Homo sapiens: one gene and its partner. The protein of the gene in region 2 binds, or shares a complex with, the protein of the main gene of each other region. Each region holds a gene or a part of one and is shown on either strand. Other genes may lie near its edges. The genes, in order: SPTSSA and SPTLC1.

What was found.
Region 1: SPTLC1 (region 2) and SPTSSA share a complex: the UniProt entries of both Homo sapiens proteins name them as parts of the serine palmitoyltransferase (SPT) complex.

Annotation. Positions count from the first base shown.
Region 1 is NC_000014.9:34,459,093-34,466,462, forward strand, and holds the start of SPTSSA (serine palmitoyltransferase small subunit A), read right to left. Parts: upstream 3,149-7,370; 5' UTR 3,116-3,148; coding exon 3,004-3,115; intron 1-3,003. UniProt on the Homo sapiens protein: Component of the serine palmitoyltransferase multisubunit enzyme (SPT) that catalyzes the initial and rate-limiting step in sphingolipid biosynthesis by condensing L-serine and activated acyl-CoA (most commonly palmitoyl-CoA) to form long-chain bases.
Region 2 is NC_000009.12:92,030,604-92,035,658, reverse strand, and holds the end of SPTLC1 (serine palmitoyltransferase 1), read left to right. Parts: intron 1-775; coding exon 776-849; intron 850-3,100; coding exon 3,101-3,194; coding exon of another isoform or gene 3,195-3,346; 3' UTR 3,347-4,512; downstream 4,513-5,055. UniProt on the Homo sapiens protein: Component of the serine palmitoyltransferase multisubunit enzyme (SPT) that catalyzes the initial and rate-limiting step in sphingolipid biosynthesis by condensing L-serine and activated acyl-CoA (most commonly palmitoyl-CoA) to form long-chain bases.

The DNA of each region.
Region 1 (7,370 bases), on a different chromosome or scaffold from region 2:
CATTATATAGCAGGAAATGTAAACTAATGCATCTATCCTCTTTAAGAAATTAATCTGGGCCAGGCGCGGTGGCTCACACCTGTAATCCCAGCACTTTTGGGAGGCCAAGGCAGGCGGATCACTTGAGGTCAGGAGTTTGAGACCAGACTGGCCAACATGGTAAAACCACCCCACCCCCACCCCACCCCCAACTCCGCCTCTATTAAAAATACAAAAATTAGCTGGGCGTGGTGGTGGGCACCTGTAATCCCAGCTACCTCAGAAGGCTGAGGCAGGAGAATCGCTTGAATCCGGGATGCAAAGTTGCAGTGAGCCAAGATTGCACCACCACACTCCAGCCTCGGCAACAGAGCGAGACACCGTCTCAAAAAAAAAAAAAGAAAAAGAAAAAGAAGAAAATTAATCTGGCCAGGCGTGGTAGCTCATGCCTGTAATCCCAGCATTTTGGGAGGCTGCAGTGGGCAGATCACTTGAGGTCAGGAGTTCGAGACCAGCCTGGCCAACATGGCGAAACCCCATCTCTACTAAAAATACAAAAATTAGCCAGGCGTGGTGGCAGGCACCTGTAATCCCGGCTATTCTGGAGGCTGAGGCAGGAGAATCGCTTGAACCTGGGAGGCGGAGGTTGCAGTGAGCCAAGATGGCGACATTACACTCCAGCCGGGCAACAAGAACAAAACACTGTCTCACACACACACACACAAAGAAAAGAAATCAATCTGAAGTCTTCCTCTGTTCAGGACTTCTAACTCAGAGACAAATTTTCAGACAGGCAGAGGCAAATTTCTCTAAATTTTAGGTTTCTAGGATTGATGATTAAGTTGAATGTAATGTTTAAGCTGTAGAAAGTATGCCTCTTTCCAAAAGCCTGTAGCTGGCCACAGATTAGTTCTGGGTGAAGCTTACTAATCATTAATGGATTTATGAAATTCAAACTACTTCAGAGTAAGCCTCCTGACAAGTAGGGAAAAAAATCCAGTTTTCTCATTCAGTTCTTTCCACCAAGCTAAAATGAGGATTCAATCTCAAATTGATGTTCCAAACTATCAGATAGTTTTAAATGATTCTAGAAGTTGAAGTGGAAAAATATAAATACAACAGCTGATAGTAATTCAAGACTGGCTTATGTCAAACAATTGCATTTCTAACCTGAGTTAATTCAATAACGTGAAATTTGAAATAAGATTTTTTTATCTTAAGTTTAAAATCATAAGGTTCTATAATATTGGATGTCAGTTGGTTGCAGTTCTCACCTATTTGAAAAAAAAATTGAAACTACTTGTCGCTAAACCATGGTAACTCAAAAACATTAAAGGCAAATATCTACTAAGGCACTATATTTCATTTCATAATTTATTTCTCCATCCCCCAAAAAAGGCATCACCTAGTTATTTATAGGACACTATCACTATTGCAACATAACAGAAAAATCTTAACATCATTGATAACTGTAGCATTTTAGTGTGTAAAATCTATATTAGATTTTAGGTGTCAAATCTATACTAGATTCTAATAGTGCACTCTACATTCAACCTCTGATTTAAAGAGTTTCATTTTAACCCAGCATTGTTTAAATTAATTTTAGGATGTGTTATGTCAGTCAAGATATACTTGCTTCTACTGAGAGACTTCTATTAAATATGCATTCAAGTATATATTTTACAAGGCATGACCTTGCGAGCCCTAAAGAGTGAGACTAAACTGCAGCTACAAATAAATGGTGCAGGAAATCAAAGCAAACTATATTCAGAGTCTAAATCCAAAATATGCATTCTGGTTCTTAAATTCCAGGTTTGGAAAGAAATGCCAACAGTAATAAATAAATAAACTGCTTTGAAAGCATCTCAAATTCCTCAAAAGTGCTTAAACAAAAGACTCAGCTTTGAGTACAACCTTAAGCTATCTCAAAACAAATAAACACACTTGATAAGGCTTAGAATGAAATTACCTCAGTCACTCACTGGAATGCAACAATGCATTCGCAAAGTTATTCTGAAGTAAGCTACTCCAACTAAACCACACTGAAAAGGAGAGAACGTGGATAAACTAAACATGTTTTGTGAAATACCTGTTTTGTATTGGCCTGAGTTTTTTAAAAGTTACATCTCATTCATTATCAGTATTTAATCTGCAAGAATATCATCAAAGGATGTCAATATGGACAAGCAGAGACAAGAAACATCAGACTTTCAGGGAGCCTATCTTCACAACCCTGAGTTATTAACTGAAGTTCTCAAAGTTAGATGAGTTAAGATACAGACAACGTGCTTTGCACAAATGCTTTGCTTATAGTAACCACTCAATAGTCATTAACAAGAATTTATTAACTATCCACCAAAACACAGTTTCAAACCCTACCGACAACTAACCACAAATTGCACCACTTTTCGGGCCGACTTCTACGGACGGTGCACAGAAGCAATAAATACACTTTTAAAACTCCCCAACTTGAAGACCAAAAAGATACAATAACTTAAACTGCTTTCAAAAACTACTGGAGTGTCATGCCTACAAATTCAGAACCTGGCTTAAAAGCTAGTTAACTGACTAGAATTCTTGGTAGACCCAAAGCCAACTAAATCAGGAACACTTAAAGGTCAAAGGCGTCCAAGCCGGGAGCGATGTGCTCCACTGTTACATGATCCCCGCCTCCTACAGGAACAGGGGACTGAACCAAAGGCAGTTGCGGCCGAAGTGCAGGCGACACACAGGGTTACACATCACCTTCGGAGATTTCCTCCAGGAATCAAGACGCTTCCCCCTTGGGTCCAGCGACTCACAGGTGACCCCGGATCTCAAGAGTTCTCGTCTCCCCCACCCCCCACTTAACCCCGCGAGCGCCGCCCTCGGCCCCCAGACCTCCCCCTGCACCCCCGGCTTCCGCGCACAGGACCGGCGGGGCCGCCGCTCCAGCCTCCACCCCAGGCCCGGGGCCTGGGGAAATGCGGCCCCGCGGCCCGCGCCCCCAGCCCGGCCCCCGCGCGCGCGGCCGGGACAGGATACTGAACACCGTCCGCTCCCAGGGCTCCAGCATGTAGAGCGCCGTGACCAGCAGGTACTGGTAGTAGAACCAGGACATCTGCTTCCAGGCCCGCGCCAGCGCCATCCCCGCCATGCGCCTCCCGCGATGCAGCTCACACGTCAGTCTGTCCGGCCGGCCGCCCGCTCACGTCCTAAAGCCCCCGGCCGCCAGGCCCGCCCGCCCGCCACCCAGCGCCCATTGGCCCGCCCGGCCCCGCCGTCACCCGCGGCACGCCCAGACCCGCGCGCGCCCCGGCCGCCGGCCCCCAGCCCCGCCCGACCCGCGCTCATTGGCCAGGCCGCTACCTCGCGTCGCGTCGTCCCCTCCCGTTTCCCCGCCCGGGCATCGCCCACGCTAGCCGGAGAACGGTCCCCGCGAGAGCGCCCAGCCGCGCCCCACCCCGCCCGGGCCGGCCGGTGGTGGGCGGGGCGTCAGTGCCGGCCGGGGTCCCGGGGCCCCCGCAGCCCAGCGGGCGCTCGGTCCGTCCAGACTGGCCCAGAGCGCTTGCGGAAGAAATATTTCTGGAACACTTGTTATGCCTCAGGCATCCTTCTGAGAAGGAGGATTGCCAGGGAGAACCGGAATGCCTTCGGTTCCTTACCTTGTGCAGCTGGCGGCCTAGCTGGGAGACAAGCATTAATCAAGTCGTGATCCGTGTAAGAGGAGATAAGGGGCTGAGAGAGGGTGAGGAGGCGAACGCCACCTAATAAGGAGGTCTGGAAAGGCGTCCTTGTAGAAGGGATGCACATTCGGCCTCCTTCCTCCCTTCCCCCACCCATGCACACACACACACACACACACACACACACACACACACACACACACACCCCTAGACGGACATAACCCATGCACTCCCTAACCCAGAGACCACTTACCAAAAACATCTATCTGCCCACCTCTTAGTGGCTGTAGGTAACCACCAAGTGGGTCAAGGCCAGAAGCGCGCTGATCTAGTGGGTTCTGCAGAAGACAGGCAGCTTGAGATTGGTGTGAGGGCTGGTGATACTTCCCTAGAGATGCACTCCTGGATGCCCAGATTTTCCCACTGCCAGATGGGCCAGCAACATTGCACTGGCCACAAGGAGCTCCATGCACTGGTGTAGCATGTGAACTGCCACAATTAAATGGCCTGCTGTTTAAATGTTAAAAGTCTTCCAGGTTAAACATACTACTGCTTAAACTTTAAAAGTTTCATGGTTAATAACTATTCATTAAAAGTACCAAGTGCCGGCCAAGCGCCGTAGCTCATGCCTGTAATCCAAGCACTTTGGGAGGCTGAGGCTGGCGGATCACTTGAGTCCAGAAGGTCGAGACCAGCCTGAGCAACATGGTGAAACCCCGTCTCTACCAAAAAAAATAAGTAAATACATAACAAAAAGTTAGCCAGGGGTGGTGGCGTGCACCTGTAGTCCCAGCTACTCAGGAGGTTGAGGCGGGAGGATTGCTCGAGCACGGGAGGTCGAGGTTGCAGTGAGCCAGGATGGTGCCACTGCACTCCATCTTAGGTGGCAGAGCAAAAGAAAGGAAAGAAAGGAGACAGAGAAAGAGAGGAGAAAACAGAAGAGAAGAGAAGAAAAGAAAGAAAACAGTAAGTAATATCAAGTGCCAGACATTGGGATAGCAAGCCAGATAGACTGAGACCTGCCTTCATAAAGTACCCAGTCTGCTGGGGAAGAGAGGCAAGTTAATGGATTACAGTGAGGTGTGGTAAATGATATTTTTGTGGATCGTATCCTTTAGGATACCAAGATAGCCCAGACAAAATCAGATTGGGCTTGTGAAAGTCTTCTGAGAAATGGTGCTTGAACTGAGTGTTGAAGGACAAGCAGAAATGGAAGAATGAATGAGCTTGGGGAAGAGAGGGTGAGACAGACATTCTAAGGATGAAGTTGTGATGTTTTTAGAAGACTGGAAGAACTTCCATGTGGCTGGAGCAAAAAGAATGTATATGCAGTAGCAAGAGATGGGCCTAGACAGCAAACAGGGACCATATTCTGAAGGACCTTGTTTGAGAAGCTAAGAAATTTTTAACTTGATGTCCAAAAGTTACTGGAGCCAACAACTTAAATAAGATTTTCTTTCAGGGCTGGGTGTGGTGGCTCACACCTATAATCCCAGCACTTTGGGAGTCCAAGGCGGGTGGATCACATGAGGTCAGGAGTTCCAGACCAGCCTGGCCAACATGGTGAAACCCCGTCTCTACTAAAAATATAAAAAATTAGCCGGGCGTGATGGTGGGTGCCTGTAATCCCAACTATTTGGGAGGCTGAGGCAGGAGAATCGCTTGAACCCGGGAGGCGGAGGTCGTAGTGAGCTGAGATCACACCATTGCACTCCAGCCTGGGCAACAAGAGCAAGACTCCGTTTAAAAAAAAAAAATGCTTTCGGAACAAGACTTGGGTGTGGGTAGTAGCCTGGAGGCTACCGAGGGAAAAAACAGGTTGGGAAGACATTACAAAGGTAGAACCCACAAATACTTGAAACCTCCTTACCCCTCAGAGATGCAGGTACACGTGCCCTCCTACTTTCAAACTTAACTGTTTTGGACTTCTTTCTGTCCCTGTTCCTGTTCAGGCACAGGCAAGCTCATTCCTTTTTCCTCGAGAACTCCAACTACCCTCAGCATCTGGTGATGCTACATAAAATTCATCCAAGATTGGAAGCATCACCCGTAGCCACCCTTCCTTTACTGGGTCCACTCCCTAGCACCATGTCTGCCAGGTGGTTGTCCTCACTGTTAGTAGCTCCCAATCCACTGCGTGTCTCTCGGAGACCAGCTCTACCACCTCATCTCACTAAAGTTGGTGACTGACTAGAAATGAGGAAAAGAGGCTGAGATCCTGGATGATGACAATACAAAGAAACCGAAGGAAGACGTTTGGCTGAAAAGATATTGATTTTGTTAGGATGAAGCTATGTCTGAGGTACCTGAGGGACACTTAAATGGAGGTGTCCAGGGGACAATTGAGCACATGGTTTGGAACTCAGAAGTGAAGCCTGAATGGAACTAGAGGCATATGAATTTTCAATATGTCCCTGGTCATTGAAGCCAGAAGAGCAGATGAGGTCACCCAAGGAAAGCACATAGAATGGGAAGAGCAGGGTACAGAATAAACCCAGAGATTCTGGCATTTGGCCAATGAGAGTCCAAAGGAAGCCAATACAGGGAAGGAGCTACCTGAGATTTGACAGCAATGAGGAGAGACATACAGGAGAAGCTAATGGAGGAAGGGATAGCCAGCAGAACAAATGGCTCAGGGAGGATAAGCAAAATAAGGAAGGGAAGCGCCAATTTGTTTTGTCCACATGGGGCTAGATTGATGACTCAGCATTTCATTGTGGAATGATGATAGGACAGAAGCCGGATTATAGAAGGCTGAGGAGAGAACAGGAAGTAAAACAATGAGGACAGTTAATTCAGGCTTAGTTTTGCAGGAAGCTTGCCTGTGAAGGGAAGGAGATAGAATGGTGGCAAGGGTTTCAGTTTGGTTTCATTTTCAGATGGGAAAGGAGTAAGCAAGTTTATGGGCTTAGAGTAAAGATATGGATAAAGATGGTGGGCTGGGGGACCAGATCCAAAGCCTTAATAAACAGGAACTGGTAGCTCTTTCCCCAAGAGGAGGAGGATGGAAAGATGGGAGCCAGATGGACATAAACACAGACAAGTAAGTTAAGGAACTCCCTACCTTACAACATCAGTTTTCTTAGTGAAAAAATAAAGGCCTCTTGTTGAGAGTGAGCAAGATGTTGAAGAGTGGAGGGTATGAAAAAGAAAAAGGGAGATGGGAGAAGTTTCCTAAAGCTGCCTAAGGATTGTCAGGCAGAAAAACCATACAGTTTTTACCAACAATACACAAGTACCGAGTATATATAGAACTAGAGAAGTTGAATTAGGAGACTTCCTCCAAGGCAGGGTTTGCTGGATGGATACAATGGAGAAACAAGCAAGAAGGTTGATGGAGAGAGAATAATTGAAATAATGACTAGGAGAATTAGGTCACGGAGGGAAGTAAATGATGAAAAGATAAAATGGAGTAGTCCAGAGCTGTGTGAGGTTGGAAACTGTAGGAGTAGGTGCATGGGAAAGAGTCTATGTTGGAGGAGGAGGGCCACGGCTGTGCTTCTGAAGCTTAGGAGTACAGAAATAGGCCAGTCTTAGACAATGACCAGGCACAGGTTGTGACCATGGGATAGGCAGCTAAAGTGGAGTGGAGGGGATAGTAAAGACCACAGGAAAGATAAAGTTGTCCAGGATGATGGCAGAACTAAGTGTCGAGAGGAAAAGTCTGTAAAGCAAATGTCAAAGTCTTCAGTGAGCATAGAGGAAAACTCAGGAGACAGGTGGATG
Region 2 (5,055 bases):
ACATACCATAAAATTCACCCTATTGAAGTATATCGTTAAGTGGCTTTTAGTATCATACATTCAGCAGGTTGTGCAACCATTACTATCTCATTCCAAAACTTTTTCATCACTCCAGAAAGAAACCCCTGTAGCCTATTACCTTGCTCTGGTGTTTGTGCTTTCTTTATTTTAGTAGAGATTGTTTTCATTTTTTCTTAATGTTGACAGATGGTTAATATATAGGAAAGCTGGGTAAAACTTTGTTAACGCCAGATTCTGCAGTGCCCAGTGGCACCATGCCCAGATGCCACATGTGGACATCGTTTTTGCTAATATCTGAAGTGCAGTGGTTTTTCTCTGACGCAGTTCTACTGGTGGTGGTGGTCATAAGTCCAGCCTGCAGGACTTTGCTCGCACCACTTCCTCATGTGCTAACTCTGCTTTGTCTAAATGGTAGTCACTAGCTAGCTATGGCTGTTTGAATTTAAACTAAGTGGAAATAAGAAAAGGTGCAACTGTGACCTCTCAGTAGCACCAGCCATATCTCCGTGTGCTCAGCAGGCACACAGGGCTCATGGCGACTGCTGGGCACTACACAACAGAGGTATTTGTCATTGCAGAAAGTTCTGTGGACAGTGCTGCCAAGGTGGTGGTGTAGTATTTTGGTGATATCTTCTAGCAATTATAATTGGAAAAGTGAATTAAAGCTACCGTTGCAGGATTTCAGCGTTCCCCCAGTTTAATTACCACCATGTCTGAAGTCCAGGTTGCAGATGTCTTCTTTTTCTTCCTACAGTGCATGAACAGAAGTATTGCATTAACTCAGGCGCGCTACTTGGAGAAAGAAGAGAAGTGTCTCCCTCCTCCCAGGTCAGTTGACGTTAAAATATGACCTTATTTTTTTCCCCTACTCTGAGCTCTATGAAATACGTTATCTTTTGAAAAATTTTGAAAGACTATCATAGGCTATGGAAGAATATCTGTCATTAAAATATAGTACATTACCTGTCTTCTGCTCTTAAACTAGAAGTTTCTAAAATTTTAACTGAAAAGCTCCCAAGGACTCACTGAGTACCCTCTCAGTTAACTCAGAGAAATGTCTGGGAGCCCAGCAATGAACTTGGGCAAACTGAGTTTCCATCAGCTCATATCTGCCACATCTGAAAGGTGGCACATGCCACACCAGGAGTTCCTGCCACAAGGACCGTCCTGCAGGGAAGATCGGCAGTGTGGGGTGGGGGTGGGCATGCGCCTCTGCTGCTCCTTCAGTCAGCAACACTCAGTAACATTTGAGAAAAAACAAGCAACAGTGGGGAAAATGTACAGCATCAAGAAAAAACACCAAAAGTGAAAGACTAATGTCTTACTTTTAAGGAGACTGGATTCTGTTCACAAAGCATATACGAGGTAGTCCAAGGAGTTGGCCATCCCACCACAGCACTGGGCCAGGCAGTCACAGCAGGGGGCATGGACATGGTCAGTTCTGCCCTGGGGCATTGCTCAGGCTTTTGAGAGCAGGCGATGTCTACACCAAAACTAGAGAAGTGTGTGTGTCGGGCATCCTGTGGGCATCGTGGCTTTCCATCAGATGAGGTGGTGTGTGCTTTGCTCAGGGTTTTCAGTGGCTTGGAGACCTCCAGGTTCATCTGGGAGTACAGAGTGCAAGCCGCAGAAGAGCTGGAGAGAAGGGTCCTGAGGCCAGGTGCCAAGTCAGGGAGGCTGCAGGAGAGCCCACTGGGGAGTTTGAATGCTCTGCCGGCCCACAGTGCCAGACCAGGATTTGGAAGATCACTCTGGTAGCAGCTCAAAGCACCTTAAGGAGCCTGCCCTTTTCAGCCAGGTGCAGTGGCCCACACCTGTAACCTCAACACCTGGGAGACCGAGGTGGGCAGATCACTTGAGCCCAGGAGTACAAGACCAGCCTGGGCAACATGGTGAAACCCCATCTCTGTAAAAATTAGCCAGGCATAGTGGTGCACGCCTGTGGTCCCAGCTACTTGGGAGGCTGAGGTGGGAAAATCACCTGGTTCCAGGAGGTCAAGGCTGCAGTGAGCTGAGATCACTCCATTGCACTCCAGCCTGGGCTGCCCCCTTCATTTTTTATTGCACTCATCCAAAGGTGTAATCCTACATCCTACGTTTACTTGTTAGTAAGACCGTAGGTGCATGAGGACGGGAGCCGTGCTGGTTTTGTGCCCTCAGGACTCCATGCACAGCATAGTACAGCTCAATAAATATGTGTCAAATGCATGAAACAGATGTTTACAGATGAACTCTGGGGGACAGAGGTAGCATTGTCCTTTCAAGCTATTATTTCTTTGATTTCCTGAAAACTTGAAAATTTCTGCCATGCCTTAGAGTATTACAGAGCTTTCACATTGCTATTGACATAAATACGAACAATCAAACTGTCGTTGATTTGAGAAGGATGGAATTCCTGCTTTGTGCCTGGCACTGCCTGAAGCAGTACATGATGGACAGGATGCTATTTCCCAGCTTCTGAGGCAGAGCCCACGGAAACTCACTCTGACTGGGTGTGCACTGGTGTGGTGTAGGCCGAGGCCTTCAGGCTGCAGATTCCCTGCCGCAGCAACCCACCTGCCACAGTAGTGAGAAAGTGACTGTGGGCAGCAGGTACATGAATAGACAGGCCTATTGGGAGGACTGCCAGGAGAGGTTTGTTTACAAAAATAGGCAGTGGATTTGGCTCTCAGGCCATATATGGTTGACTGTGAGTGCAGTTCCTCACCTCACATAGATAATTCTTTTTTCTGTTTGTTTGTTTTTGGTTTTTTTTTTTTTTTGAGACAGAGTCTCACTCTGTTGCCCAGGCTGGAGTGCAATGGCGCGATCTCGGCTCACTGCTAGCTCCGCCTCCCAGGTTCACGCCATTCTCCTGCCTCAGCCTCCCAAGTAGCTGGGACTACAGGCACCCGCCACCACACTGGCTAATTTTTTGGTATTTTTAGCAGAGATGGGGTTTCACTGTGTTAGCCAGGATGGTCTCGATCTCCTGACCTCGTGATCCACCTGCCTTGGCCTCCAAAGTGCTGGGATTACAGGCGTGAGCCACTGCGCCTGGCCCACAAAGATAATTCTTTGTGTCCTTTACTGTTCTCAGCATTCGGGTTGTGGTCACGGTGGAACAAACAGAGGAAGAACTGGAGAGAGCTGCGTCCACCATCAAGGAGGTAGCCCAGGCCGTCCTGCTCTAGGCAGAGTCCCGGGACCATGGCCTCCTGCCACACAACACGCAGAGAGGACTCAAGACTCCCGCTGGCCATGGAGTGGCCTGAAAGAGAGCAAGAACATGTGGATCTTTGATAGGATTGTTACCAAATGGTGTCAGTATGGACCAATTGTGTGACCATGAGAAGGATGCTTATTTTTTTTAAAAAGAAAACACATCTAAAAGCCCAGGAACTGATTTTTTTAAGAGGAAAACTAATGACAGTGTATAACTGATGTTTAAATTGTGCATTTAGTACTATTTAAATGTTTTCTTATACTAGTATTTTATATTCTTTTGTTGTCGTTTAAAACTGGAGCTTCAGTGTCTCTTCCCTCCCTCTAATAGTAATGGTTCAGTAAGCACTCCTTAACTCCTTAGTATTTCATAGAAAAATGACTGCAACATTAAAGCTAAGAGGAACACTTCAACATATGTGGTACAAATTTATATTGAAGATCTAAATAAACCACGTATTTTCCAGTCTTCGTTGTGTGAAGCTAAATGGTGGCTAAAAGGAACACTTTTTGTGTGATTATTATAAACTTTGCATTGTATTTGAATCTTAGAACTTTTGTACACACTAAATATTGATGTCACACCATTTCTAATCTGAGCATCCTTAGCCAGAGAATATTCATTATACTTCCTAAGTGAGCAATAATTTAAATCAGAAGCTATTTTATTTTAATGTAATTAACCTTTCTTTACATTTCTTATGTGTTCACCTCTAATCTGTTTTAGGAAGAGAGTTGGTTATTATGTTGATCCCATAATATAAATCATATCCTTTATATTTTAGAATATCTCAAATGTATTCCTTTTTTGTATGGTGGGTTTGCCTAGGGACGTGTAACTACAGGCTTTTACTAAGCCAAGGAAAAAGAGAATTTTTCTTTTCATCTTACAAATTCCAGATATCTACAAAAGATGTGAAAGCACTAAAAATACCATTTTTAAGCAGTACTTTACCTGTTTTTTCTTTAGCAAACCAGGTTATGTGGTGTAAAGGTTTGTTATACGTGCCACAATATAGCATATAAATATTATGCCATCATTCCTTCTCTTGTTAAAGGTAGAAGAATAAAATTGTGATTTTTATAACCTGTGCTTATTACTCAAATGGTCTTCAACATCTTTTTAAACAACACATACTTTTTGAATGTTCAGTTTCTATTTTGCTTGAGGTATTTTGTACATATGTGCCTTGTGATTGCTGCTGCTTTAAAGGATAAAGTACTCTTTGGGGGATGAGTCTGGTTTGTTTTGTTTTATTTTTTAATGAAATAAACCTATATTCCTGATTATTAGTCTATTTGCATATGTAATATATCCAACAGAATAGTCTCTTAATTTTAACTTTTTTGCACTGGGGTAGTATTCTTTGTTGTTTGGTCTTATTTTAGAAAATAACAATTAAATTTCTTAGTTCCTTTTTTCACATCCAACCAAAGAATATATAGTATCTGAAGTTTCCTAGGTTCTTGCTGACCTCATAGGACTACAAAAATATCATGGCCATTATTTTCATAAATAACTGTTCAGCTTCTTTTAGAATACTTTCTAAGTGAAAATAGCAACATCAAAATAATGTTTGTAATAAACTTTTTGAAAATATGATCAGGAGTTTCTGGGAAAGATGGCGGATCAGGCACATTATTTCAGTCCTTAAAACCAACATTGTAAACGAAAGGAACCAAAAGTAAAATTTTTGTGTTAAAATTATAGAGTGACCACAATCCAGTAATATACACCACGATGAAATGTCTACTAGAAACAGTAAAATTTGGATCAAACTGAAGCAAAATGCTGAGAAAGTACAGTCATCTCAAATCTGGACCAAGTTA